Linked DNA regions of Homo sapiens. The protein of the gene in region 1 purifies or fractionates together with the protein of each later gene. This does not show direct contact. Each region holds a gene or a part of one and is shown in the gene's direction. Other genes may lie near its edges.

Region 1 (4,254 bases):
ACACATTTTTTTTTTTGGACAGGAAGTAGAATTTATTGGTGAGTATTAATAGGGGGGGCAGCACATTGGAAGCCCTCATGAGTGCAGGGCCAGCCACTTGTCCAGAGGGCCACGATTGGGGATGTACTTGACCCCACAGCCATCTGGGATGAGCCGCTTCTCAGCCACCATGTCTTCAAATTCATCAGCATTGAACTTGGTGAAGCCCCACTTCTTTGAGATGTAGATCTTCTGGCGGCCAGGAAACTTGAACTTGGCCCTGCGCAAGGCCTCAATCGCATGCTCCTTGTTCTGCAGCTTGGTGCGGATGGACATGATAACTTGGCCAATGTCAACCCTGGCCACAGTGCCCTGGGGCTTTCCAAAGGCACCTCACATGCCTGTTTGGAGCCTACATTGTGGTAGTGCAAGGTTAGAAACATGAACATCCATCGGAAAGGCCTGTCTCCAAGGTCCCTTAGAGCAACCCATACAACCAACAGGCTGCGTACACTACCAAGGAAGCTGCTGTGTGCAGCCATTGCACACACACATTTTTATAGTTTCTTGGTGGACTTGCCAATTCAGAAAATATCTGTAGTATCAATGAAAGTGAAAAATTCAACAGGTCCTTTGGCCACGATATTCCAGTAATACAAATTTATCCTTGTGCATAGACATCAAGAAGCATCATTAAGTAAAAAAATAGAGTTCTCTGACTCTCTACCAAGCCATTCGCTCGGGGCCAGACCCACAGGCCTCGCCCCGCCTCAACCACGCCTTCATGGCGTAGTCTTCTCCCTGTCTCCGTCCCCCGCTCCCCACCTTCCGAGCGTCTCCATCGCTCCCCAGCCACGCCCTTGGCGCCTGGTCCTGCTGCAGCCTGGTTTCCGTCCAGACCACGACCTCTCGGCTAGGTCCTCGTCGTCAACCCCGCCCCCAAGGTCTCGCCCCGCCCCAGCCCCGCCTTCCAGCGGTTGTCCGAGCCTCTACCCGCCCTAGCCACGCCTCCAAGGCGTGGTTCTCGTCTGCAGCCCCACCTAGGCCTCGCCCCGCTCCAGCCGCGCCTTCCGGGCTTGATCCTCGCCCCACCCCAGCCACGCCTTCTGGACTTGGTCCTCGTCTCTAGCCCCGCCCCCTAGCCGCGCCCCAGCCCCGCCTTCTGGACTTGGTTCCGTTCTCTGGCTCCGCCCCTGAGCCTCGCCCAACTCCAGCGACGCCTTCCGGGCTTGGGCCTCGCCTCTAGCCCCGTCCCCGGGTCTCGCCCCTCCCCAGCCACGCCTTCCGGACTTGGTCCCCGTCTCTAGCCCCGCCTCCGATCCTCGCCCCACCCCAGCCACGCCTTCCGGACTTGGTCCTGGTCTCTAGCCCCGCCTCCGATCCTCACCCCACCCCGGCCACGCCTTCCGGACTTGGTCCTCGTCTCTAGCCCCGCCTCCGAGCTTCGCCTCACTCCAGCCCCGCCTTCTGGACTTGGTCTTAGTTCCCAGTCGCGGCCAAATCACGCCTCAGCCACCTCCCGCAAGCCTCTCACTGCCTCAGCCACGCTTTCCAGGCTGGTTTCTGGTCCCCATCCGCGGCTGGTCCGGCCCTGGGACCGAATCACTTCCCAGCGAGAGGAAGGTCAAATTTCTCGACCGGCTACGGGAAGGTCGCGGCCGCCGCCCTGTCAGCCGCCTCGGCGCCCCCAGGACCCCTCGGGTCTCTTTAACCGGAAGCGGAAGTGCGTGTCGGCGGGATCATGGCGACTTTGGTCGAACTGCCGGACTCGGTCCTGCTCGAGATCTTCTCTTACCTCCCGGTACGGGACCGGATCCGCATCTCCAGGTGCGGCCCCGCCTCCGGGGGGAAGGGCAGGGCGGAGGGCGCAGCTGGCACCTGGAGATGCGATGTGGCCCGGGGCTGGGGTCGTTCTAACCGCGCGTCCCCTCCCCCAGGGTCTGTCACCGCTGGAAGAGGCTGGTGGACGACCGGTGGCTGTGGCGACATGTCGACCTGACGCTCTACACGGTACGCGCAGCTGGCCGGGCGGGCCTGGGCCGCGGTCGCGGTGCCCGGACCCCGAAGACCACCTCTCCCACCCTGGGACTGTGTGTCGGGGCCCGGGCTGGGGATTTAGAGCCAGGCGATCCGGGGCCTATCTCGGCATCATCGCTTACCAGCTCCTCTTCGACCTCAGGGCCTCAATTTCCTCATCCCTGCAATGGGGATAAAGGACAGTACCTGCCTCACGGGGCTATTATGGGACTTCACTGAGATCACGCAGGGAAAGGGCTTAGAACAGTCTGGCACATATTTATCATTCGATAAATGCTAATTTATGACTATGTTATCAAGTTTTTGTTTTGTTTTTGAGACAGAGTCTCGCTCTGCTGCTCAGGCTGGAGTGCAGTGGTGCGATTGCAGCCTCGACCTCCCAAGCTCAAGCGATCCTCTCGCATCAGCCTCCTGAGTAGCTGGAACCACGGGCGCTCGCCACTACACCTGCTAATTTTTTATTTTTTGTAGAGACGGAGTCTCACTATGCTGCCCAGGCTGGTCTCGAACTCCTGGGCTCAAGTGATTCTCCCGACTTAGCCTCCCAAAGTGTTCAGATTACAGGCATGAGCCACAGCAACTGGCTCAAAACATTTATAGATATATTTGTTGCCCTTTTTGAAACTGTCTTCATAGATAATTGCTATTATAAAGTGAATTTGCACCCTTCCTTTTACGTTACTTCATATGTGTGTGTCCAAAAACAATTATAGTGTTAGTAATGTATTTCTGAACTTCGGGTAATGCTGTTCTACTATTTAGATAGTGTTCTACTTTTAAACAATTTTACTGTATATATCCATCTGTAACTCCCTTTAATACAGTTGCTTTTGAAGTTCTTTTTTTAAGGACAGAGTCTTGCTATGTTGCCCAGGATGGTCTCGAACTCCTGGACTGAAGCTGTCCCCCAACCTCAGTCTCCCAAAGTGCTGGGATTACAGGTGTGAGCCACAGTGTCTGGCCTGATAATATGAAACTTTTTCTCAGTTGTTGAAACTTAGTTGTTGGTTTTGCGAGGAAAAGTTGATTCGTCCATTGGTTTTGTGTGCATTTAAAATTTTACCAACTTTAACTGCTACCCTTGTGAGTTACCATTCGGTGGCCACTATTTCTAGTCAATTTCTGCTGACCCACACGGGTCTAAATTTGGCAAGGAAGATTTGATTCCTCTGTCAAAAGTAGCCCATAACATTTATGCTCTGCAGTTTATCTTTTTCTAATTTATTTTTTTGAGATGGATCTCACTCTGTCACCCAGGCAGTGGCAAAATCATAACATACTGCAACCTCCATCTCCTGGGCTCAAGCCATCTTCCTGCCTCAGCCGCCTGAGAAGATTCATTAAAACATGTTTCTTTCTCTCTTGGTTCATGATATGGTTTGGCTGTGTCCCCACCCAAATCTCAACTTGAATTCTATCTCCCAGAATTCCCACGTGTTGTGGGAGGGACCCGGGGAAAGTAATTGAATCATGGGGCCAGTCTTTCCCATGCTATTCTTGTGATAGTGAATAAGTCTCACAAGATCTGATGGGTTTATCAGGGGTTTCCTTTTTTGCTTCTTTCTCATTTTCTTTTGCCATCAACATGTTAAGAAGCGCCTTTCACCTCCCGCCATGATTTTGAGGCCTCCCCAGCCATGTGGAACTTAAGTTCAATTAAACCTCTTTTTCTTCCCAGTCTCAGGTATGTCTTTAGCAGCAGTGTGAAAACAGACTAATACTGTAAATTGGTAGCGGTAAGTGGGGCGTTGCTGAAAAGATACCCAAAAATGTAGAAGCATCTTTGGAACTGGGTAACAGTCAGAGGTTGGAACAGTATGGGGGGCTCAAAAGAAGACAGGAAAATGTGGGAAAGTTTGGAACTTCCTAGAGACTTGTTGAGTGACTTTGCCCAAAATGCTGATAGTGGTATGATCAATAAGGTCCAGGCTGAGGTGGTCTCAGATGGAGATGAGAAACTTGTTGGGAACTGGAGTAAAGGTGACTCTTGTTATGTTTTAGCAGAGAGACTGATGGCATTTTGCCCCTGCCCTAGAGATTTGTGGAACTTTGAACTTGAGAAAGATGTTTTAGGGTATCTAGTGGAAGAAATTTCTAAGTGGCAAAGCATTCAAGAGGTGACTTGGGTACTGTTAAAGGTATTCAGTTTTATAGGGGAAGCAGAGCAGAAAAGTTTGGAAAATTTGTAGCCTGACTATGTGATAGAAAAGAAAAACCCATTTTCTAGGGAGAAATTCA
Region 2 (3,500 bases), on another chromosome or scaffold:
GGGTTCAAGTGATGCTCATGCCTCAGCTTCCCAAGTAGCTGGGGTGACAGGCATGTACCACCACGCCCGGCTAATTTTTTGTATTTTTAGTAAAGACAGGGTCTCACTCTGTTGCTCAGGCTGGTCTCGAACTCTTGGCCTCAACCAGTCCTCCTGCCTTGGTCTCCTAAAGTGCAGGGATCACAGGCATGAGCCACCACACCCGGCTTCGAGTTTTTGAGCTAGGGAGGGGCAGAGGGAGCGAGAGGAAGACAGTGGTGCTGGCAGGCGAGTCTGCGCCTTACAGGTCGAGGCAGTCGTGGGGAAGGGCCTGGCAGGATTGACCTGGCCGCCTCCCAGCAAAGGCAAAGGAGCCCTGGAAGGAACCACAGAGCCCAGGAAGCACTGTGCCAGGATGGGGCAGGGGTGAGAGTAGAGAAGGCACAGTGGCTCCTGCCGGCTTTAATCCTTGACCACAAGGGGGAGAAATGCCAGGGCCATCCCCACAGACGCAGCAGCGTGGTCCCCGAGTCAGGTCTGGAGAGGAGGCCTTGAGGCCCAGACAGGGCTAGGGCAGAGAAGGCTGTGTGCATGCGGAGACTGCTGGGCCCCTGGAGGCCAGCACAGAGGAGAGGTGAGGCCAAGCCAGGCAGGACATGGGGACGCCTGCATCAGCCTGGGACAGTCCACCTCAAGGGTCAGAAAAAAAGGGCTGGGCAGGTGGCAGAACTTCCAGGTTTAGGTTTAGAGAAGAGAGACCTGAATGCCGTAGACAGAGCTGGACTCCATCCTTGGGTGATAAGGGATCCCCGAAGTTTCCAAAGGAGATGGGTGGGGAGGGGTTCCATGCAGCATTTTGCAAAGAGTCCCCTGCAGGGTCAGCCAGGGTCACAAGCAGAGGCGGGAGGAGCCAAGGGGTTTGGCTCAGCAGGGGGACCCTGGGGGCCGATAGCAGCCGTGCACCATTCCCTCCTGAGACTCTGTGCTTAGGGGCTGGTCCTGATGAAGGATGAGCAGGGCCCTGGGCTGCAGGGTGGCAGTGAGGAACAAGGAAAGGCCAGGCGAGGGCTGCTGCCCGCTGACTCCACCACCTCTCCAGGGAGGAGCGGGGCCGTGGGCTGGGCCATCCCGCCTGGTCCAGGTCACTGAACGGCCACTCTGGTTTCCTTCCATGCCCAGGGAGCCCTCGTGTGGGCAAGATTGTTATGACTGCTGCCGCCAAGCACCTGACACCTGTCACCCTGGAGCTGGGGGGCAAGAACCCTTGCTACGTGGACGACAACTGCGACCCCCAGACCGTGGCCAACCGCGTGGCCTGGTTCCGCTACTTCAACGCCGGCCAGACCTGCGTGGCCCCCGACTACGTCCTATGCAGCCCTGAGATGCAGGAGAGGCTGCTGCCTGCCCTGCAGAGCACCATCACCCGTTTCTATGGCGACGACCCCCAGAGCTCCCCAAACCTGGGCCGCATCATCAACCAGAAACAGTTCCAGCGGCTGCGGGCATTGCTGGGCTGCGGCCGTGTGGCCATTGGGGGCCAGAGCGATGAGAGCGATCGCTACATCGGTGAGTCCTGCTGCCCCTACCACAGCCCACCTGGGCCAAGACCCCTCCTCACTGGAGGGCCCAAGGCTGGGCCACAACTCTGGACCCGCGCCTGAAACCTGGCCCCACTGCCAGAGCCCGGCCTTGAGCCACAGCTCCAGTGCCATGATTCCGTCTCTGTGCTTCTAAGTCTGTGGCCCTATGAGGCCAAACTCTGGTCCCTCACCTTGGATTCGCTGAGCTCAGATCCCAGGGCTCCAGGGCTCAGCGTGCTAAGATGAACTCCCATCCCACCACTGGCTATCCTGAAAGGCTGTAACCTCAGATTCTCCGAGCCCACAATCCCCAGGTTCTAAACTCCGAGAGTCCCGTCCTGAGCCCCCAGTCTCCTGGGCCGTACGGCTCAGCAGCTCATGGGACACTGCGGCGCCAACATTCTGGGACGCTGTTGCCTCATGAACTCCAAGGGTTCTAAGATCCCATCACCCCTGACTGTGAGACCAAGGTCGGGGGATTCTCTGTGTCCCACAGGCCCTGAGCAGGCTGGGGAAGCTCTAGAGTCCCTTCTGGGGGGCTGTGGGGAGACTTTCTTCCCTAAACACTCCAAAGCCTGAAGCCTTGGGAAGTCAGACCTTGGGATCCTGGCCTAGAGCCCTGGCCTGTGGCCCTGTCCCCACCTCTACCCCCACCCTGGGGGCGGTCCTGACTGTGGCCCCAGGGCTGAGCTGTCTCTGGTGCCTGCAGCCCCCACGGTGCTGGTGGATGTGCAGGAGATGGAGCCTGTGATGCAGGAGGAGATCTTCGGGCCCATCCTGCCCATCGTGAACGTGCAGAGCTTGGACGAGGCCATCGAGTTCATCAACCGGCGGGAGAAGCCCCTGGCCCTGTACGCCTTCTCCAACAGCAGCCAGGTGGGGGTGCGGCCGGGCTGGGCAGGGTCAGGAGCCCGCAGTGGGCAGCACAAGTGGTGGCAGCAGGGGGGGCACCAAAATCCAGTGGCTTCAGGACTTTGGGATGGTGGACCTCTTGGCTCTGTCTCTGCCCACTCTCCTGGAAGCAGCTGAGCCTCACCCACCCCAACCCTGTCCCCAGTCTGGGCCCCACTCTCCTAGGCCTTCAGTGGGCAGCTTCCTGGGGTATGGGCCTTCTCTAGGGTCCAGTGTTTCCTCTAGGTCAGCCCCTGCCTTTGTCCTTCTTACACATCGGGGCCTGGTGGCCACATGACCCCTCAAGCCTGGCTCTGAAGGCACAGGCAACGTGTCGGGGATGACCCAAAGGTGCAGGTCCAAGAATGAGCCCTGATCCCCTACCCCTGCTTAAGCTGCAGAGGCAGCCTGGGAGGCCCAAGGCCAGAGTCCTCAGATTAAAAAACACCAAGAGGTACCAGCAGTCCCTACCCACCCCGCCCCCTTCCCCGGCCCTCAGCCAGTTCCTCGATTCCCTCCACTTGAACTTTTTTTTTTTTTTTTTTGAGACAGAGTCTCACTCTGTCACCCAGGCTGGAGTGCAGTAGCACAGTCTTGGCTCACTGCAACCTCTGCCTCCCGGGTTCAAGCGATTCTCCTGCCTCAACCTCCTGTGTAGCTGGGATTACAGGCGTGTGCCACTATGCCCGGCTAATTCTTTGTATTTTTAGTAGAGATGGGGTTTTGCCACATTGGTCAGGCTAGTCTTGAACTGCTGACCTCAGGTGATCCACCTGCCTCGGCCTCCCAAAGTGCTGGGATTACAGGGATGAGCCACCGTGCCCGGCCACTTGAACTTTTTTTAAATAAACTTTGTATTGGGAAATACTTTTAGATTTACAGAAAAGTTGCCAAAATGGTACAGAGAGTTCCCATGTACCCCACACCTAATTTCCCCCATTTAATGGTGCTTAGATGGGTCAAAACTAAAAAAGTGATGGCAGGGCTGGGCGCGGTGGCTCACACCTGTAATCTCAGCACTTTGGGAGGCCAAGGTGGGAGGATTGCTTG
Region 3 (3,500 bases), on another chromosome or scaffold:
TTCTGTAGCAACCAAAGCTCAGGGAAGACTTTGAAGGGATCCTGGCACCAGGCCTTGCTTAAAATGGCCACCCTGCCCCACAGAAGTACAAGCCAAACTGTAATACCTTCCCAGTGACTTTGTCCCGTTTGGCTAATGGTGATGATAAAGAGAGGTGAAATCTCTTGCAAAGGATCAGGCACAGGTTATCTGACCCTTAAGCAAAAGCCCAGATGTAAAGTTTCCTCAGTGATGTTTAAGTGCCATAGCTATCAAAACATCACTATTACGGAAATTCCACAGGAAACTTAACTTTGTTATTGTGAAATTGAAACTCTCCAACACTCTAAGCCTCCCTTTCCCTCATTGGAACAGTGGTTTTTATAATGGGATTTTGCTTTTGTTTTTGTTTCTGTTGGTTTTTGTTTTTAATGTTAGGAAAGACAATTGTTCTGTTCCACAGTCTTAATCTTGAATTTGATATCAAACCTCAAACCCCTCTGTAGACACACCATCTACCTCAAGGTTCTATTATTGTCACAGAGAACACACACTGTGCCTCCCCATTTCAACACGTTTTTTGCAAGGGGCTGGTTCCACAATGGCCACCTACCCAGCTGCCTCCCACAAATCAGGTTTCCTTCTGCCTGGATCTGCTTTAAAACTGTAGCTTGACAGCTGTATTTAAGGGGCATTGCAGCACAGGGACCGCTCTGCACATTCAGTAAGCCTGCTTTGAGCATCCTTTGTAAAACAGGTGTGGCACAGGCTACAGACACAGAAGACACCAGTATTCTGCCCTCCCGGAACTCACAGCCGGGGGTGGGGACAGATGGGCATTCCCCTGACAGTCACACAAATGGGAAAATGCAACCTGGGGTAACCGCTTCAGAGGAAAATCTTAGGGGCCAAGAGGAAGAATTAGTACAGCAGGAAGGCTGAGCCTCCTCTGGAGCCTCTGCAGAGGTGAGTTTAGAGTTGACAAAGGTGGGAACGGTGAAGGAGGGAAGAGCAGGGTGTGTTCCAGGCAGAGGGAACAGCCTATCCGGAGGCTCTGAGAACCAGGGTGCCTGGCAAGTTGGAGAAAGGCCCATCACATGTAGCCGAGGCAGCACAGTGCCATGTTAATAAACGGCCCATTCATATGTGGGGGCCATTAGTCCAGGAAGATAGATTTCCATCTTGAAGGTGTTTTTCAACCTCTCATTTTCCAGACTAGGAAACCCAGGCCCAAGAGGAGAAGGAGGCGTCCCACTCAGTGAGTGGCAAAGTCAGCCTCAGCTTCTGGGCAGATTTGCCAGGAAGCCAAACAAATCATACGCCTGAGACCCCCTTGCTGGTACAGCACCTTGCTGGGGTCTGTCCTTCATTTTGTATTTGCAATTGTGTATTTTTTTCTTAAAGAGGACTGCCAAATTTGCTTAAGCTTTATGCCCTGCCAAATGTGAACCTGCCCTTTGTGAGAACTTGGGACTTCTGGCTTCAAACTTAACACAACTGTAATGCTGCCTCTACTTACTGGGGTGGAGTCAAAGCTACACAGGGAAGAATCCCTTTTTTGAATTCAGCAAAGCAGAATGTGAGGGAGCTGCCCCCACAGGTTTGGGGAAGGTCTGCAGCAGGACAGGTCAGAGGTCTGGCTGGGCCAGCCCTTTTACGTCCCGACACGACTGTTTCTCAAAAGCCCTGATCCCTTTCCATATTGTAAAGCCACTAAAGATCACTCTTGGTTTCTGTCTTACACCCAGAAACTCTTGCTTTTACATGGCTTATTGTCAGGGACTCAGCTTCCCCAAATGAACAATACATTTGACTGCACTGTTCCACCGTGATTACTTGTTTCTAATTTATTTATCAATCGATAAGCATAACCTTTGCCCAAAACCTCACTCATCTTTCTCACTGATTCTAGTATTTAATCTCTCTTTAGACTTAGTCTGCCCAAGAGGCTTATGACTCGGAGGCTGCAAGACATATGAGTTGTAAGAGGCAGGATCTAGAGGTGTGTGGATCCTAGAAAGTGGCTTGTTTGGGCCCCAAAGCCCACATGCCTGAGTACTGGGATTTCTCCAGATCTTGGGGTGAGCGAACCAGGGAACAGTTCCTCCCATGACTATTTATGTATCCTGTAGAACATGAGCTCCGTGAAAGCAGCAAGAATGGGCTTGCTTTTCTCACCTATGCTGCTTACGACAGGTGCTCAGTAAGTAGTTGCCGAATGAATAAACAGGTGATGTTACCCAGAATTTTAAGTTCAAAGTCCCAGCCAGCAGGTGGAGTGATGAAAGTCATAGCAAATAATAACTGTATTTGCTGATACAGAAGACATCTTGTTATTTCCCCCAAAAATGTATCCAAATATTACCCTGCATCTAATGCATCTGAATTACATCAAATCACTAAGGATAGAAGCAGACGTATCGCTCAGTGTCAAAAAGCAAAATCACTGTCTCTCCTCTACAGTCAGGAACCAGACAGCCCTCTTTCCTTTTCAAAACTTCACCAGAATTCCTTTCAATACACTATTAGGAAAAGTACTAAGTTTTTCTTCCACCACCCCCACCCTCAACAAATGTCCCTATTAAATAGATGCCCAGCGTGGGGCCTTATATTCTGCAAGAAATAAGTATTTTGTTTAACCTCAGAGTTACTGCCTCATGGTCCTAATGGGTCCTCAGAACTCATTTTGCCTCACACTCCTTCCCCAAAAGTGTCATAGATATAACAACTCTGAGTCCCAGAGTGGACACCCGAGGCATTGGTAGTGAGAAGGGGGGTTTTTACAGCAACTTATGTGAACGTATGTGGTGTAACATACTCTCATCTCCTCTCCTAAGGACCCTGGAATGAGGTAGTATTAGTCCCATTTTAAAGATGGAGAGGGTGAGGCTAGTAGACTCGTAACAGGCGCTGAAGCCAGACCCCATGACTCATCTCACAGCCTTTGGATCCCATTTCTCAGATGAGAACATGAGGGCCAAGGCAGGCTTAAGAATAGGAGCATGTCACCTGACCCTCAGGGCTCGTACGCACACCCTGCAGAGCCATCTCTGAAGAGAGGACCTTGCTGTAAATTGGTGGTTCAAAACAAGAAAGGTATTTCCTGCTGGAAAATCTCATCTTCATACCCTCCCTCCCAAGCCTACCTTTAAGCTCCTTGTGAATAAAAAGCACCTTGCCCCCTTCCCCCTTGCCTTTGTTTCCCCAGGACTGGATAGCGACTTCCTTGCCGTGCTAAGTGACTACCCGTCTCCTGACATCAGCCCCCCGATATTCCGCCGAGGGGAGAAACTGCGTGTGATTTCTGAGTGAGTCAGCTCTCCAAAACTTGTGCAATCTTCAAAGCAGGATAAACTTGGTTTGGGAGAAAAGTATTTGATTGTTAGCTAGAGTGGTCTAGTTCCACATGAGTCCTGGTCCTATTATGAGGTGAGAAATTTGACCCATACTGCAACCTTCCTCTTTAATGTGGCCAGTGCTCTAGAACCTTCCATAGCTCCCCACTGCCTGGTAGATCAAAT
Region 4 (3,276 bases), on another chromosome or scaffold:
ACTTTCTCAGACCACAGTGGAATAAAACTGGAAATCAACTCCAAAAGGAACCTTCAAAACCATGCAGATACATGGAATAACCTGCTCCTGGATGATCTTTGGGTCAAAGATGAAATCAAGATGGAAATGTAAAAATTCCTCAAACTGAATGACAATAGTGACACAACCTATCAACCTCTGGGATACAGCAAAGGTGGTGCTAAGAGGAAAGTTCATAGCCCTAAATGCCTACATCAAAAAGTTGGAAAGAGCACAGACAATCTAAGGTCACATCTCAAAGAACTAGAGAAACAAGAACAAACCCAGCAGAAGAAAGAAGATCAGAGCGGAATTAAATGAAATTGAAACAAAACAACAAAAAAATCCAAAAGATAAATGAAACAAAAAGCTGGTTCTTTGAAAAGATAAATAAAATTGATAGACCGTTAGCAAGATTAGCCAAGAAAAGAGAGAAAATCCAAATAAGCTCAATAAGAAATGAAACGGGAGATATTACAACTGACACCACAGAAATACAAAAGATATTCAAGGCTACCATGAACACCTTTACATGCATAAACTAGAAAACCTAAAATAGATGGATAAATTCCTGGAAAGATACAACCCTCCTAGCTTAAATCAGGAAGAATTACCCTGAACAGACCAGTAACAAGCAGGGAGATTGAAATGGTAATTAAAAAATTACCAACAAAAAAATGTCCAGGACTAGACGGATTCACAACAGAATTCCACCAGATATTCAAAGAAGAATTGGTACCAGTCTTAAAGACACTATTCCACAAGAGAGAGAAAGAAGGAATCCTCCCTAAATCATTCTATGAAGCCAGTATCACCCTAATACCAAAACCAGGAAAGGACATAACCAAAGAAGAAAACTACAGACCAATATCCTTGAACATAGATGCTAAAATCCTTAAGAAAATTCTAGCTAACTGATTCCAACAACATATCAAAAAGATAATCCACCATGATCAAGGGGTTTCATACCAGGGATGCAGGGATGGTTTAACATACACATGTGCGTAGCCAAAGCAAGACTAAGCAAAAAGAACAAATCTGAAGGCATCACATTACCTGATTTCAAACTTATACTATAAGGCCATAGTCACCAAAACAGCATGGTACGGTTATAAAAATAGGCACATGGACCAATGGAACAGAATAGAGAACCCAGAAATAAACCCAAATACTTACAGCCAACTGATCTTCAACAAAGCAAACAAAAACGTAAAGTGGAAAAAGGATACCCTTTTCAACAAATGGTGCTGGGATAATTGGCTAGCCACATGTAGGAGAATGAAACTGGATCCTCCTCTCTCACTGTATACAAAAATCAACCCAAGATAAATTAAAGACTTAAATCTAAGACCTGAAACTATAAAAATTCTAAAAGATACCATTGGAAAAATCATTCTAGACATTGGCTTAGGCAAGGATTTCATGAACCCAAAAGCAAATGCAATAAAAACAAAGATAAATAGCTGGGACTTAATTAAACTAAAGAACTTTTGCAGAGCAAAAGGAAAAGTCAGCAGAGTAAACAGACAACCCACAGAGAAGGAGAAAATCTTTCATAATATATACATCTGAAAAAGAACAAATATCCAGAATCTACAATGAACTCCAACAAATCAGCAAGAAAAGCAGTCCCATCAAAAAGTGGGCTAAGGACATGAATAGACAATTCTTAAAAGAAGATATACAAATGGCCAATAAACATATGGAAAAATGCTCAACATCACTAATGATCAGGGAAATGCAAATCAAAACCACAGTGCGATACCACCTTACTTCTGCAAGAATGGCCATAATAAAAAAATCAAAAAAATAGTAGATGTTGGCATGGATGTGGTGAACACGGAACACTTCTACACTGCTGGTGGGAATGTAAACTAGTACAACCACTATGGAAAACAGTGTGGAGATTCCTTAAAGAACTAAAAGTAGAACTACCATTTGGTCCAGCAATCCCACTACTAGATATCCACCCAGAGGAAAAGAAGTCATTATACAAAAAAGATACGTGCACACGCATGTTTATAGCAGCACAATTCGCAATTGCAAAAACGTGGAACCAACCCAAATGCCCATCAATCAATGCGTGGATAAAGTAACTGTGATATATATACATACAATGGAATACTCCTCAGCCATAAAAAGGAGTGAATTAATGGCATTCACAGTGACCTGGATAAGATTGGAGACTATTATTCTAAGTGAAAGAACTCAGGAATGGAAAACCAAACATCGCTATGTTCTCACTCATAAGTGGGAGCTAAGCTATGAGGATGCAAAGGCATAAGAATGACACAATAAACTTTGGGGACTCAGGGAGAAAGGGTGGGAAGGGGATGAGGAATAAAAGACAAAAATTGGGTGCAGTGTATACTGCTCAGGTGATGGGTGTACCAAAATCTCACAAATCACCACTAAAGAAGTTAACCAACACCACCTGTTCCCCAGTAACCTATGGAAAGAAAGAAATGTCTCATATGTTTCTGCCTAAATTGGTCTTTAATACTTTAGCGATTCTCTTGAGTTTGGATTATAAAATAGTTTTTGGTCTTTTTGTATTTTCTGCTGTAAGCCTGTATGATTATGTAATGGTGAGTAAAATTGCTAGGCCAGATACGCAGTTCTAGGAAGTTATGCAAAGATGTGCTTTAGTATATTATTTTCTACCTTTTTAAATTCATTTTGAGCTTGGCTTTTGAGCCTCTATTTTCCAAGGTGGGGTGTATGTTTTTATAATGTTATGCTTAGCCCTTGTGTATTTTCATCTCTGAGTTTGAAATTTGGGGTTATATTGGCAAAGGGAGGTTTGGGTTTTAATTAGGTGACCTGTTAGAGGAAATGTTAAGCTTCTGTTTCTTTAGGGTAGACAGTGAGAGATTTATCAAGATAAAGAAGAAAAATAAATCCTAAAGTTAATATTCAATACATGATGATGTCACCCTTACTAAAGCCAAAGAGGGCATTATCCTATCATTCTCATCGCTAAGAACTCTTCTCCTCTTGGCACATGCTTATTCAGTTAAAGATAAGCCAAGCCTTTCTTTTGTATTTTTTTTTTAAGAGAACAAATTTACTTTGGTTTTGAGTTTTATTCCTGGCTCTGGGTAGCTTATTTTTTTGACCCTTATTTTCCCCAATTTATAAAATGAAATAGTTATCTTCACTCCCCAGGATTGTTGTGAAGAGTAAGTCAAAAGATACAATGAGGTGACTCAGGCAAAAGTACCTGGCCCTGTGTAGTGAGTACATTGTATGTGTTAC
Region 5 (3,500 bases), on another chromosome or scaffold:
ATAGGTTGTAACCTGCACGTGGGGTGGTGGTGGAGGCTGAGGCCAGTGCTGTCTGCGTGGTCCACATGACCCTGGGGTCTGCTCACAGGCTGGACGACTGTGGCCTCACGGAAGCACGGTGCAAGGACATCAGCTCTGCACTTCGAGTCAACCCTGCACTGGCAGAGCTCAACCTGCGCAGCAACGAGCTGGGCGATGTCGGCGTGCATTGCGTGCTCCAGGGCCTGCAGACCCCCTCCTGCAAGATCCAGAAGCTGAGGTGAGGCGGGGCCTGGCACTGCCTCTGGCCTGGTGCAGTCTGCTTTGGTAGCCCGGCAGCAGGGGACAGAGCCGCCAGGGGCGCGTGGGCAGCTGCAGGTGGACAGGCAGTGGCAGCAGACATTTCCAACATCAGCCAGAGGCACACAGGCCTGGCGGTCTCACAGCGGGGGGGACAGGGCCCTTCCTGCCTTATCCCAGCCCCCGCACCCAAGATCTGGCCCTGCCCGCCATCCCTAGCCTTCCAGCATCACCACAGACCCCCACTGAAAGGTGTGTCTGCAGACAAGGTTTCCCTGGGTCGAGCCACATGCGTGCCCTCCTTCACTCGGCCTGGAGACCCCAGACCCCAGAGCCCCGTCCAGGGAAGGAGCAGGTATAGACCTGCCGCCTGAAGAGTGCTGCTCCGGGCTCTGGGCTCTGGCAGGCGAAGGGCGTGGCAGCTTGGCTCAGGGGAGCCCTGCTGACAGCCAGGTATGCTCCAGCCTCCAGAACTGCTGCCTGACGGGGGCCGGCTGCGGGGTCCTGTCCAGCACACTACGCACCCTGCCCACCCTGCAGGAGCTGCACCTCAGCGACAACCTCTTGGGGGATGCGGGCCTGCAGCTGCTCTGCGAAGGACTCCTGGACCCCCAGTGCCGCCTGGAAAAGCTGCAGTGAGTTTGTGTCCTGCCCCAGGGCCCATGCTGGCCGCTGCCTGTCCCCCAGCCAGCCCCCTACATAGAACATCGCCTGCCAGGAGCCGTGAGGAGGGGACTCAGGTCACAGGGGCCTTGTGGTGCTCTCCTTTCCCCATGATGCTGGGTCTGGGGCCTTGTGGTGCTCTCCTCTCCCCATGATGCTGGGGCTGGGGGGATCTGTCATCACCCTCCCTCCCCATCCAGTTGTCCTTTGCAAGGCACAGCTGCCCCAGGACCCGACGGTGGGAACAGATGCCTGGCCGTGAGTCAGGTTCCACTCACCGCCTCAGTGTGTGTGGGGGACCCGGCCATTGTGAGTTGACCACAGCCTGGGACGTGCAGGTGGCCCTGCCCTCCAGAGGCTGGTTTCTTTCTCCCGGGCCTGGTTGGGCCCCAAAGTCTGAGGTCCGGGAGGGGGTGAGGGGTTTCCAGAAGGAATGCCGGTGTCCACAGAGGCCCGGGCCTCTGGATGAGTCTGTGGGGGTCCCTCAGCACTGACACCTGATGCCCAGGCAGAAGACTGAGGGGAGATGAGACACCAGCACACCCCGTGCTCCCTGGTATCACACCCTTGGCTGGTGCACATTCCTGTGTGGTGCTGAGCTCTGCTGTCCCCCAGGCTGGAGTATTGCAGCCTCTCGGCTGCCAGCTGCGAGCCCCTGGCCTCCGTGCTCAGGGCCAAGCCGGACTTCAAGGAGCTCACGGTTAGCAACAACGACATCAATGAGGCTGGCGTCCGTGTGCTGTGCCAGGGCCTGAAGGACTCCCCCTGCCAGCTGGAGGCGCTCAAGTAGGCACTGGGCCTTGGGGGGGTGCGGGGTGTGGGCTAGGGGGGGTCCCGTGCTGCCTCACGTGTGACCCGTGTCCCCAGGCTGGAGAGCTGCGGTGTGACATCAGACAACTGCCGGGACCTGTGCGGCATTGTGGCCTCCAAGGCCTCGCTGCGGGAGCTGGCCCTGGGCAGCAACAAGCTGGGTGATGTGGGCATGGCGGAGCTGTGCCCAGGGCTGCTCCACCCCAGCTCCAGGCTCAGGACCCTGTGGTGAGTCATCTCCGCGAGGCCTCCTTCCCGGAGGGTCGGGCGGCGGGCCGTCCTCAGAGCTCTCCCCCGCCCCTGGGCTCATCTCAGGCCATGAGACGGTGCTGAGGAAAGTCTGTGGTGGTCCATGTCCTGCAGGATCTGGGAGTGTGGCATCACTGCCAAGGGCTGCGGGGATCTGTGCCGTGTCCTCAGGGCCAAGGAGAGCCTGAAGGAGCTCAGCCTGGCCGGCAACGAGCTGGGGGATGAGGGTGCCCGACTGCTGTGTGAGACCCTGCTGGAACCTGGCTGCCAGCTGGAGTCGCTGTGGTGAGTGTGGCTGTCGGGGCAGGGCCCTGTCGCCCAAGAGAGGGCCAGGGTGACCGAGGAGACCAGGGGAGGAGTGAGCGACTCCAGGGAAGCTGCTGGGCTCAGCTCCGACCTTCAGAATGCATAGGCCAGGGAGCAGCCTGTGGTTTGATGGGAACAGTGCTTGGGGCCAAGGACCAGGTGTAGGTGCCCACTTGCTGGGAGGCTGTCAGATGTTTTTGCTCAGGTCCACGTGGGGCCTTCAGGGGAAGGGCCAGTCGCAGCTGTGGGCCAGCCTGGGCCCCTGCCAGGCGTCAGTCCTGTCTGTGTCCACAGGGTGAAGTCCTGCAGCTTCACAGCCGCCTGCTGCTCCCACTTCAGCTCAGTGCTGGCCCAGAACAGGTTTCTCCTGGAGCTACAGATAAGCAACAACAGGCTGGAGGATGCGGGCGTGCGGGAGCTGTGCCAGGGCCTGGGCCAGCCTGGCTCTGTGCTGCGGGTGCTCTGGTGAGTGTGTGAGGGACACGAGTATGCACATTTGGGAGATCATATGCCCGTGTGTGCACACAAGGGCGAGAGTGCACGAGTATCTGTGTGAGCACGAGTGTCCGTGTGTATGTGAGCACACATGGGTGAGGCGAGTGTGAGCACGTGTGTGAGCATATGAGTGTGAGCATGGGTGTCCGTGAGCATGTGAGAGTGAGCACGTGTCCGTGTGAGCACGTGAGTGAGCACGAGGGTCCGTGTGTGAGCACATGGGCAAGAATGAGCACGAGTGTCCGTGTGTGAGCACATGGGTGAGCACGTGTGTGTGAGCACATGGGTGAGAGCACGAGTGTCCGTGTGTGAGCACGTGAGAGTGAGCACGAGGGTCAGTGTGTGAGCACATGGGCAAGAATGAGCACGTGTCCGTGTGTGAGCACGTGAGAGTGAGCACGAGGGTCCGTGTGTGAGCACATGGGCAAGAATGAGCACGAGTGTCCGTGTGAGTGTGAGCACATGGGCGAGAGGGAGCACGAGTGTGTGTGAGCACATGGGCGAGAGAGCATGAGTGTCCGTGTGTGAGCACATGGGTGAGAGCACGAGTGTCCGAGTGTGAGCACATGGGTGAGTGAGCATGAGTGTCCGTGTGTGAGCACGTGAGAGTGAGCACGAGGGTCCGTGTGTGAGCACATGGGCAAGAATGAGCACGAGTGTCCGTGTGTGAGCACATGGGCGAGAGTGAGCATGAGTGT
Region 6 (4,199 bases), on another chromosome or scaffold:
AAGATGAACAGTTAAAATAGAAAATGGAGTGGTCAAGTTAGCCATCTCATACTCAAATTATTGTACAGTTCTATTTCTATGTGTTGGCAGTGCATTTTATGTGACAAAAAGTAGAATGTAGGGGGAGGTTTAAGTCAAATATCTATGTGATCTTTTCACTTATAATTTGCATTTAGTTAAGGAGTGACTATCTTGCCTTTTACCTTTGTGCTGGCGGTGGTTTTTTAAAGAATCAATTTGGTGTACAAATCCTTTCTTTCTTTTTTTATTTTTGATTTTTTTTGAGATGGAGTTTCGCTCTTGTTGCCCAGGCTGTAGTGCCATTGCACTATCTCAGCTCATTGCAACCTCCGCCTCCCGGATTTAAGCGGTTCTCCTGCCTCAGCCTTCTAAGTAGCTGCGATTACTGGCATGCGCCACCACACCCAGCTAATTTTTGTATTTTTAGTAGAGACGGGGTTTCTCCATGTTGGTCAGGCTGGTCTCAAACTCCCGACCTCAGGTGATCCACACGCCTCAGCCGCCCAAAGTGCTGGGATTACAGGCGTGAGCCTCCGCGCCCGGCCCAAATCTTTTCACCATGGGTTTACAGGCATAACGCCACCACACCCAGGGAATTTTAAAATTGTTTTTTAGAGAGGGGGGTCTTACTATTTTGCTCAGGCTGGCAAACTCCTTTTAAAAGATATTGAAAGCCATCTGGTTTATTATTTTTATTTCAAAATATAATAATGGAAGAAATTTTACAGTATTATATACAATTTACTGAGTCAGCTATCAGTTCCTTTTTCTGATTTTTTTCTAGTTGCCATTCTTGATATTTTCTAGGTAATCTAAACTGAGTTGTATTTTCAAGTACTCTTAAAATACTTTAAAAAATTTTAAATTGAGCCGTTTAATTCTTTGCTTAAAGGTGATGGGTATTTTATTTTCTGTATGGCACCACGTGATTTTAAATTGAACTCTTCATTTATTAGTCATTTGGTTATAAACTCAGCATAGATTGCGCAGAATTTTGAGAGGGGAGAAACTATAGCTTTCCTTTCGGATGCCACTGGTGGGTAGCCTGTTTTGCCTGTTTGTTCTTATGTTAAAGAAGGGCTCTACGTCCTGTCTGGAAAGGGCGGAGCTGGCTCGGACCGCCCCACTGCCTTTCCCAGGACCTTCACTCGTCCTGTCCCACCGCAGCCCCGCCTCCTCCACGCCGGGTGAGCTGTGGCCTAGCAGCATCCGAGGCTCCGCCCCCCCCACCCCCAAGCGTCTGCGCTCTAGCGAAGGGGCGGAGCAGGGCGGTGGCGCGCTGACACCTGGCGGCGGCGGAGGGCGGGCAGAAGGCGAGCGTGGGCTGGGATTGGCTGAGGCGACGCGGGTGGAGGGGGCGGGAAGGAGGCGGGGAGACGGTTGTCGGGCTGGTTCCTGTGCTGGATCCTGGGCGGCCTGAGGGGTACGGAGACTCTGGGGGAGGGAGACGGCAGCGGCATGGCGGCCGGGTGTAAGACGCCCGACCCTCCTCTTCCCTGTCTTCGCCGCCGCCGCTGCTGGAGTCACTGGGACCCTGTAGTCTGCGTGTGTTAGTTGTAATCCCGCCGCCCTCCTGTCAGCCCTCCGCTCCGCCGGCCCTCCTTCCTTCCGCCGCCGCAGCCAGCCCGAGGGTCGGCCGGCTGTGTAACACTCTCCCACCCCACCCACCAGCCCGCGGGCCAGCACCATGGAGGACGTGAAGCTGGAGTTCCCTTCCCTTCCACAGTGCAAGGAAGACGCCGAGGTGAGTCGCTCCCGTGGCTGCCACGCACAGGCCTCTCCCTGTGGCTCCGGCCGAGGGGCGACCCCAGTCCCCAACCGTCTTAGCCGCCACCTGTACGGGCGCCCTGCCTCCTAAGGGCGTCCCGGGACCTCTGAAGCCGAGCGGTCGGCTCCAATCCCCACTGAGTTGCTCGTCCTCTCCAGACCCCGCGGAGGGGCAGCGTCTGGTGTACTTACATTTGAGAAGAGGAAAAGCAATCCCTTAGTCCCTAGGCTTGGCATCCAGGACTGACCTGGAGTAAGGTTCCTCTTTTATTGTCAAAGTAACAAGAGAGCGAAGTTGGTTTAGTCTCCTTTTGAGGAATATCTGTGGTGTAAACGATTCACTTGTGGGACACATGGCCCCACATGTGAAATAGACTCGGCGCCTGAAGTTTGGAAGCGCGCCTTCGAAAAGTTTCCCAAAGTTTTTTGTTTGTTTTTAGACAAAGCTATGACCCGCACAACAAAGTGTCTCAAAGCTAGCTCATCTTAATCTGAGAACTCTTAATCAGAAATCTTGACCTTTGGAGGAAAATTAATATTGAAAGTAAAATACTATATACCTTTTCTCCTGGTTTCTAATTTGTGGCTATTTTTACTCCACCTTAGATCCCTGCCTGCTGTTTCTACTCGGATTTTTTTTCATCTGTTGCTAGTTTAACATTTTACGGCATTGCAGACTACTAAATTAGAATTTTCTGGAGGCTAAATTAACAAGACGAAGATACTCAGCTATACTTTAGTAGGATTAAGAAAGAAAATCTAACATCGCTAGTTAAAAATACCTTTAAAGTAGTTGGGAAAAATAAAGCCCTATTTTTAGGAGACCATTCAATTTATTCCGAATATTTATTCTATTGAATATCTTCATTGGAGGTTCACTTTTTTTTTTTTTTTTTTTTTGAGACGGAGTCTTGCTCTGTCGCCAGGCTGGAGTGCAATGTGGCGCGATCTCGGCTCACTGCAACCTCCGCCTTCCGGGTTCAAGCGATTCTCCTGCCTCAGCCTCCTGAGTAGCTGGAACTACAGGCGCGCACCACCACGCCCAGCTAATTTTTGTGTTTTTAGGGGAGACGGGTTTCACCATTTTGGCCAGGGTGGTCTCGATCTCCTGACCTTGTGATCCGCCCGACTCGGCCTCCCAAAGTGCTGAAATTGCAGGTATGAGCCACCGCGCCCGGCCTAGGTTCACATTTTTGTTTGGAGGGCTCTCTTGTGGTATTGATGCTTGACAATTACATTTGTTTTAAGAGTAGAGACTTTGTTTGTGACTATCACTGTTGCAAAATGTAGTGCAGTGGTGTGATCTCGGTTCACTGCAGTCTCGAACTCCCATGCTCAAGCCATCCTTTCACCTCAGCCTCTGGAGTAGCTGGGACCATGCCGGGCTAATTTTTCTTTTTTTTTTTTTTTGTAGCGATGGGTTTTTTCTCCAGGCTGGTCTCGAACTCTTGGCCTCAAGATCCTCCCGCCTTGTCCTCCGAAAGTGTTGGGATTACAGGTGTGAGCCACTGCACCTGGCCCAAGAATATACTCATGGTTTTTTTTTTTTTTTTTTTTTTGACACAGAGTTTCACTCTTGTTGCCCCAGGCTGGAGTGCAGTGGCGCTGTCTCAGCCCACCGCAGCCTCTGCCTCGGGTCCCGGTTCAAACAGTTCTCCTGCCTAAGCCTCCTGAGTAGCTGGGGATTACAGGCGCGCACCGCCAGGCCCAGCTTTTTTTTTTTTTTTTTTGAGACAGAGTCTCACTCTGTCGCCCAGGCTGGAATGATCTTGCAGTGGTGCGATCTGGGCTCACTGCAAGCTCTGCCTCCCGTGTTCACGCCATTCTCCCGCCTCAGCCTCCCGAGTAGCTGGGACTGCAGGCACCCGCTACCACACCGGGCTAATTTTTTTGTATTTTTAGTAGAGACGGGGTTTCACCATGTTGGCCAGGATGGTCTCAAACTCCTGACCTTGTGATCCGCCTGGCTTGGCCTCCCAAAGTGCAGGGATTACAGGCGTGAGCTACCGCGCCCGGCCAATATACTCTTAGAAAACAGGAGGTCATATTTAGGCTAGTTATAAAAATGAATTTATACTTAACATACAATAATGTGAATGAAGAGTATGCTTTTATTTATTTATTTATTTTTTTGAGACGGAGTTTCACTCTTGTTGCCCAGGCTGGAATGCAGTGGCGTGATCTCCGCTCACTGCAACCTCCGCCTCCCACGTTCAAAAGATTCTCCTGCCTCAGCCGCCTGAGTAGCTGGGATTACAGGCGCCCGCCACCACTCCCGTCTAATTTTTGTACTTTTAGTAGAGACGGGGTTTCACCATGTTGGCCCTGCTGGTCTGGAACGCCAGACCTCAAGTGATCCGCCTGCCTCGGCCTCCCAAAGTGCTGGGATTACAGGCTTGAGCCACCGCGAA
Region 7 (3,500 bases), on another chromosome or scaffold:
TGGAGTGCAGTGGTGCAATCATGGCTCACTGCAGCCTTGAAATCCTGGGCTCAAGGGATCCTCCTGCCGCAGCCTCCCAAGTATTCGTATTATAGCTGGGACTCCAGGTGTACGCCACCACACCCAGCCCAAACTCCCATTCAAAGCCTGTGTGCTCAGAAGCCTCTGCAGCTGCGCTGGTTTCATTCTCTCACTGTGGAGCATCTGCTGCGAATCAGGTGCAAGGCTGGGCTCTGAGGGCACAGTTCAGCCACCAGAGTTCTGGGTCTTTCAGGGAATGAAATTTCCCATCTCTGCCCAACCACAACACAGCAAAAACATTTCTCCCTTTGCATTTCCCTCAAAATACTAGGTTGGTGCAAAAATCACAATTACTTTTACACCAACCTAATAGCCCCCAAACCCTCTGACCCAACCCTCATATGGGGGACTGCCTGAAACTTCACTCTGTCTATTCACAGGTTGTCTTAGGCTTTAAGCCCCTGGAGGTGGAGACAAGATTTTTAACATCCTCCTGGTTCTAAGACCCTCTGATAAGAGCTCCTTGTGCTGTGTTCACAGGTGACTGCTGGCTGCTGGCAGCCATTGCCTCCCTCACCTTGAATGAAGAAATCCTGGCTCGAGTCGTCCCCCTAAACCAGAGCTTCCAGGAAAACTATGCAGGGATCTTTCACTTCCAGGTAACTTAATGGTTGGCTCAGGTGGTTCCTCAACAGGTCCAGGGGGCTAGGAACAGTCTTCTGGCTTGGCTGGGTTCATCAGTCCCTGGTGTTTGCAGACTCCCAAGACCAATACTGTTCTACAAAGGACATTGGGCGAGAGCAGGAAGCTTCCTGGCTTACCCGTGGCCAGGATGTGAGACCCGGCTGGGATGGCCCTGGGTGGTTTCTTGGGACATGTAAAAGGGAGGTAGAGCAAGGTGTTCAGGAACTAATTCCCAAGTTTAAAAAAAAAAACTGTATTATTTGATGTTTGAGACAAAAACGTTGAAGTTCTCCTCCTTTTATGCCGGTAAATGAGAAATAATACTTGAAAAAGCTGGCTGGGCACGGTAGCTCATGCCCGTAATCTCAGCACTTTGGGAGGCCGAGGTGGGCAGATCATTTGAGGTCAGGAGTTCGAGACCAGCCTGGCCAACATGATGAAACCCCATCTCTACTAAAAGTACAAAAATCAGTTGGGCGTAGTAGTGCAGGCCTGTAATCCCAGCTACTTGGGAGGCTGAGGCAGGAGAATCACTTTAACCTGGGAGGCAGAGGTTGGGAGGCCAAGGTGGGTGGATCACTTGAGCCCAGGAGTTCGAGACCAGCTGGGGCAACATGCTGAAACTCCGTCTCTACTAAAAACACAAAAAAAATTAGCCGGGTGTGGTGGCACGTGCCCTTAATCCCAGCTACTCGGGAGGCTGAGGCAAGAGAATCACTTGCATCCAGGAGGCAGAGGTTGCAGTGAGCCGAGATCGTGCCACTGCACTCCAGCCTGGGCAGAGCAAGACTTGGTCTCAAAAAAAAAAAAAAACAGCCTAAGGTACAGGGCAGAATGCTAAAGAGGCGGGTGTGGATTTGAAAGGATGGACATGCGCCTCTGTCTTCGCTTTTTTAGTGAGGACTTGGCCTGCATAGGAGAGTTAAGGGAGCACCTCCTCCCAGGATGCGCTCATGGAACCTATCCCAGGGGATCAGGGCAAGGGGAGCCAGAGGCAGCTGAGGCTCAGAGTCCCAGTGCTGCCACCAGCTCCTCCTGCAGCCCACCTCTCTTGTTCTGCAGTTCTGGCAATACGGCGAGTGGGTGGAGGTGGTGGTGGATGACAGGCTGCCCACCAAGGACGGGGAGCTGCTCTTTGTGCATTCAGCCGAAGGGAGCGAGTTCTGGAGCGCCCTGCTGGAGAAGGCATACGCCAAGTAAGTTGCCATCCTCCCCTGGCCCCATGGCCTTCCCCCAATGCCCTGGATTCCAAAAAATTCACTCATGCCTGTAATCTCAGCACTTTGGGAGGCCGAGGTGGGTGGATCATTTGAGGTCAGGAGTTCGAGACCAGCCTGGCCAACATGATGAAACCCCGTCTCTACTAAAAATATAAAAATCAGTAGAACTACTCCAGGACTACTTTGAGTGGGAAGTCCTTTTCTATAGAAGGACTTCTTTGGCCAAAATTAGGCTCTAAATGCAAGGAGATAGTGCATGCAGGGTGCCTGGCTGCACTGTACGCTGATAAATGATGTCTATCACCATCTTTAACCAAATGCACAGGAACAAGTTATGGTACTGATTGTGCTGGACTTGAGAAGGAGCTCTACTTCCTTGACAGGACACATTTGTATCAACTTAAAAAAGCAGAATTTTTGCCAATGGGCAGAACTATTCATTGCAGAGGTAGGAAACTTGCCCAGAATAGATGATGTCACTGATTAGCAATGGCTTCCCCATCTCCGCACAGCTGCTTCCCACCCAGGTTGCCCACAGTTGAGTTTGTCCAGTGCTCAGGGCTGCCCACTCTCAGTAAGAAGCCCCACACCAGCCCCTCTCCACAATGGCCCCATGTTGGCTGTGCCGCCCGGCTCCTTCCATTAAAGTGACCCCACTTTAGAGCAGCAAGTGGATTTCTGTTTCTTACAGTCCCAATCCAGGAAGGAGGAGTCAGCTGTGAGAACCTGGAGCCTGACGGATGCTTCTAAGTCCCACTGCTCAATACTGGGGTCAGGGAAGCCACCGGACTCCAGCATCAGCAGTCAGGAGCACTAAGCCCTTGCCAACACCGTGCCTGTTTCTCAGAGAAACTGCTTCCATTATTGAATGGTTGTCCTTTTTTAAGCTATCAATGCCAAACGACCCATTAGTAGACCTCCCCTTTCTTGTCAGGATGTAGAAGGAATCAATACAGGAGGTTCATCCAGAAAATCACTAAGGTCCTTCCGACTCTAAGGTTCTACGAGAATCTTTTTTTTTTTTTTTTTTTTTAATACGGAGCCTCATTCTGTCACCCAGGCTGGAGTGAGCGGCATGATCTCAGCTCACTGCAATTTCCACGTTCTGAGTTTCAGCAATTCTTTTGCCTCAGCCTCCCAAGTAGCTGGGACTACAGGCATGCACCACCATGCCCAGCTAATTTTTTTGTATTTTTAGTAGAGATGGTGTTTTGCCATGTTGGCCAGGCTGGTCTTGAACTCCTGACCTCAAGTGATCCGCCCACCTCGGCCTCCCAGAGTGCTGGGATTACAGGCATGAGCTACCGCGCCCGGCCTGAGATTTTCTTTAAAACACAAAATACCAGGGAAATGGTAACTGTGGACATTATACCTTGCCTTCCTGAGCACCCCGAGCTGGGAACAAGGCCAAGGAGAATGTGAGCAGGGGGTCCCTGGAGCATCAAATCTAGACGGTACTAGGGGGTGGCTGTTTGAGAGATTATAGCATCAGTAGTGTCAAGGGTAGCGGCAGCGTCTAATCCCCTCTTGTAGGATCAACGGATGCTATGAAGCGCTATCAGGGGGTGCCACCAC

The links.
Region 2: the proteins of FBXL12 (region 1) and ALDH3B1 purify together in Homo sapiens (affinity purification with western blotting, with the first as the bait; one study listed by BioGRID). This does not show direct contact.
Region 3: the proteins of FBXL12 (region 1) and SLA purify together in Homo sapiens (affinity purification with mass spectrometry, with the first as the bait; one study listed by BioGRID). This does not show direct contact.
Region 4: the proteins of FBXL12 (region 1) and ZNG1C purify together in Homo sapiens (affinity purification with mass spectrometry, with the first as the bait; one study listed by BioGRID). This does not show direct contact.
Region 5: the proteins of FBXL12 (region 1) and RNH1 purify together in Homo sapiens (affinity purification with mass spectrometry, with the first as the bait; one study listed by BioGRID). This does not show direct contact.
Region 6: the proteins of FBXL12 (region 1) and STYX purify together in Homo sapiens (affinity purification with mass spectrometry; 4 studies listed by BioGRID and IntAct, with this or other methods). This does not show direct contact.
Region 7: the proteins of FBXL12 (region 1) and CAPN2 purify together in Homo sapiens (affinity purification with mass spectrometry; 2 studies listed by BioGRID and IntAct, with this or other methods). This does not show direct contact.

The regions. Positions count from the first base shown.
Region 1 is NC_000019.10:9,816,280-9,820,533, reverse strand, and holds the start of FBXL12 (F-box/LRR-repeat protein 12), read left to right. Parts: upstream 1-1,454; 5' UTR 1,455-1,720; coding exon 1,721-1,806; intron 1,807-1,916; coding exon 1,917-1,989; exon of another isoform or gene 1,990-4,254. UniProt on the Homo sapiens protein: Substrate-recognition component of the SCF (SKP1-CUL1-F-box protein)-type E3 ubiquitin ligase complex.
Region 2 is NC_000011.10:68,020,327-68,023,826, forward strand, and holds part of ALDH3B1 (aldehyde dehydrogenase family 3 member B1), read left to right. Parts: intron 1-1,158; coding exon 1,159-1,545; intron 1,546-2,268; coding exon 2,269-2,435; intron 2,436-3,500. UniProt on the Homo sapiens protein: Oxidizes medium and long chain saturated and unsaturated fatty aldehydes generated in the plasma membrane into non-toxic fatty acids. May have a protective role against the cytotoxicity induced by lipid peroxidation.
Region 3 is NC_000008.11:133,050,603-133,054,102, reverse strand, and holds part of SLA (src-like-adapter), read left to right. Parts: intron 1-3,187; coding exon 3,188-3,287; intron 3,288-3,500. UniProt on the Homo sapiens protein: Adapter protein, which negatively regulates T-cell receptor (TCR) signaling. Inhibits T-cell antigen-receptor induced activation of nuclear factor of activated T-cells. Involved in the negative regulation of positive selection and mitosis of T-cells.
Region 4 is NC_000009.12:68,293,983-68,297,258, forward strand, and holds part of ZNG1C (zinc-regulated GTPase metalloprotein activator 1C), read left to right. Parts: intron 1-3,276.
Region 5 is NC_000011.10:497,243-500,742, reverse strand, and holds part of RNH1 (ribonuclease inhibitor), read left to right. Parts: intron 1-88; coding exon 89-259; intron 260-743; coding exon 744-914; intron 915-1,557; coding exon 1,558-1,728; intron 1,729-1,809; coding exon 1,810-1,980; intron 1,981-2,115; coding exon 2,116-2,286; intron 2,287-2,601; coding exon 2,602-2,772; intron 2,773-3,500. UniProt on the Homo sapiens protein: Ribonuclease inhibitor which inhibits RNASE1, RNASE2 and angiogenin (ANG). May play a role in redox homeostasis. Required to inhibit the cytotoxic tRNA ribonuclease activity of ANG in the cytoplasm in absence of stress.
Region 6 is NC_000014.9:52,728,767-52,732,965, forward strand, and holds the start of STYX (serine/threonine/tyrosine-interacting protein), read left to right. Parts: upstream 1-1,399; 5' UTR 1,400-1,708; coding exon 1,709-1,765; intron 1,766-4,199. UniProt on the Homo sapiens protein: Catalytically inactive phosphatase. Acts as a nuclear anchor for MAPK1/MAPK3 (ERK1/ERK2). Modulates cell-fate decisions and cell migration by spatiotemporal regulation of MAPK1/MAPK3 (ERK1/ERK2).
Region 7 is NC_000001.11:223,743,539-223,747,038, forward strand, and holds part of CAPN2 (calpain-2 catalytic subunit), read left to right. Parts: intron 1-561; coding exon 562-680; intron 681-1,767; coding exon 1,768-1,901; intron 1,902-3,458; coding exon 3,459-3,500. UniProt on the Homo sapiens protein: Calcium-regulated non-lysosomal thiol-protease which catalyzes limited proteolysis of substrates involved in cytoskeletal remodeling and signal transduction. Proteolytically cleaves MYOC at 'Arg-226'.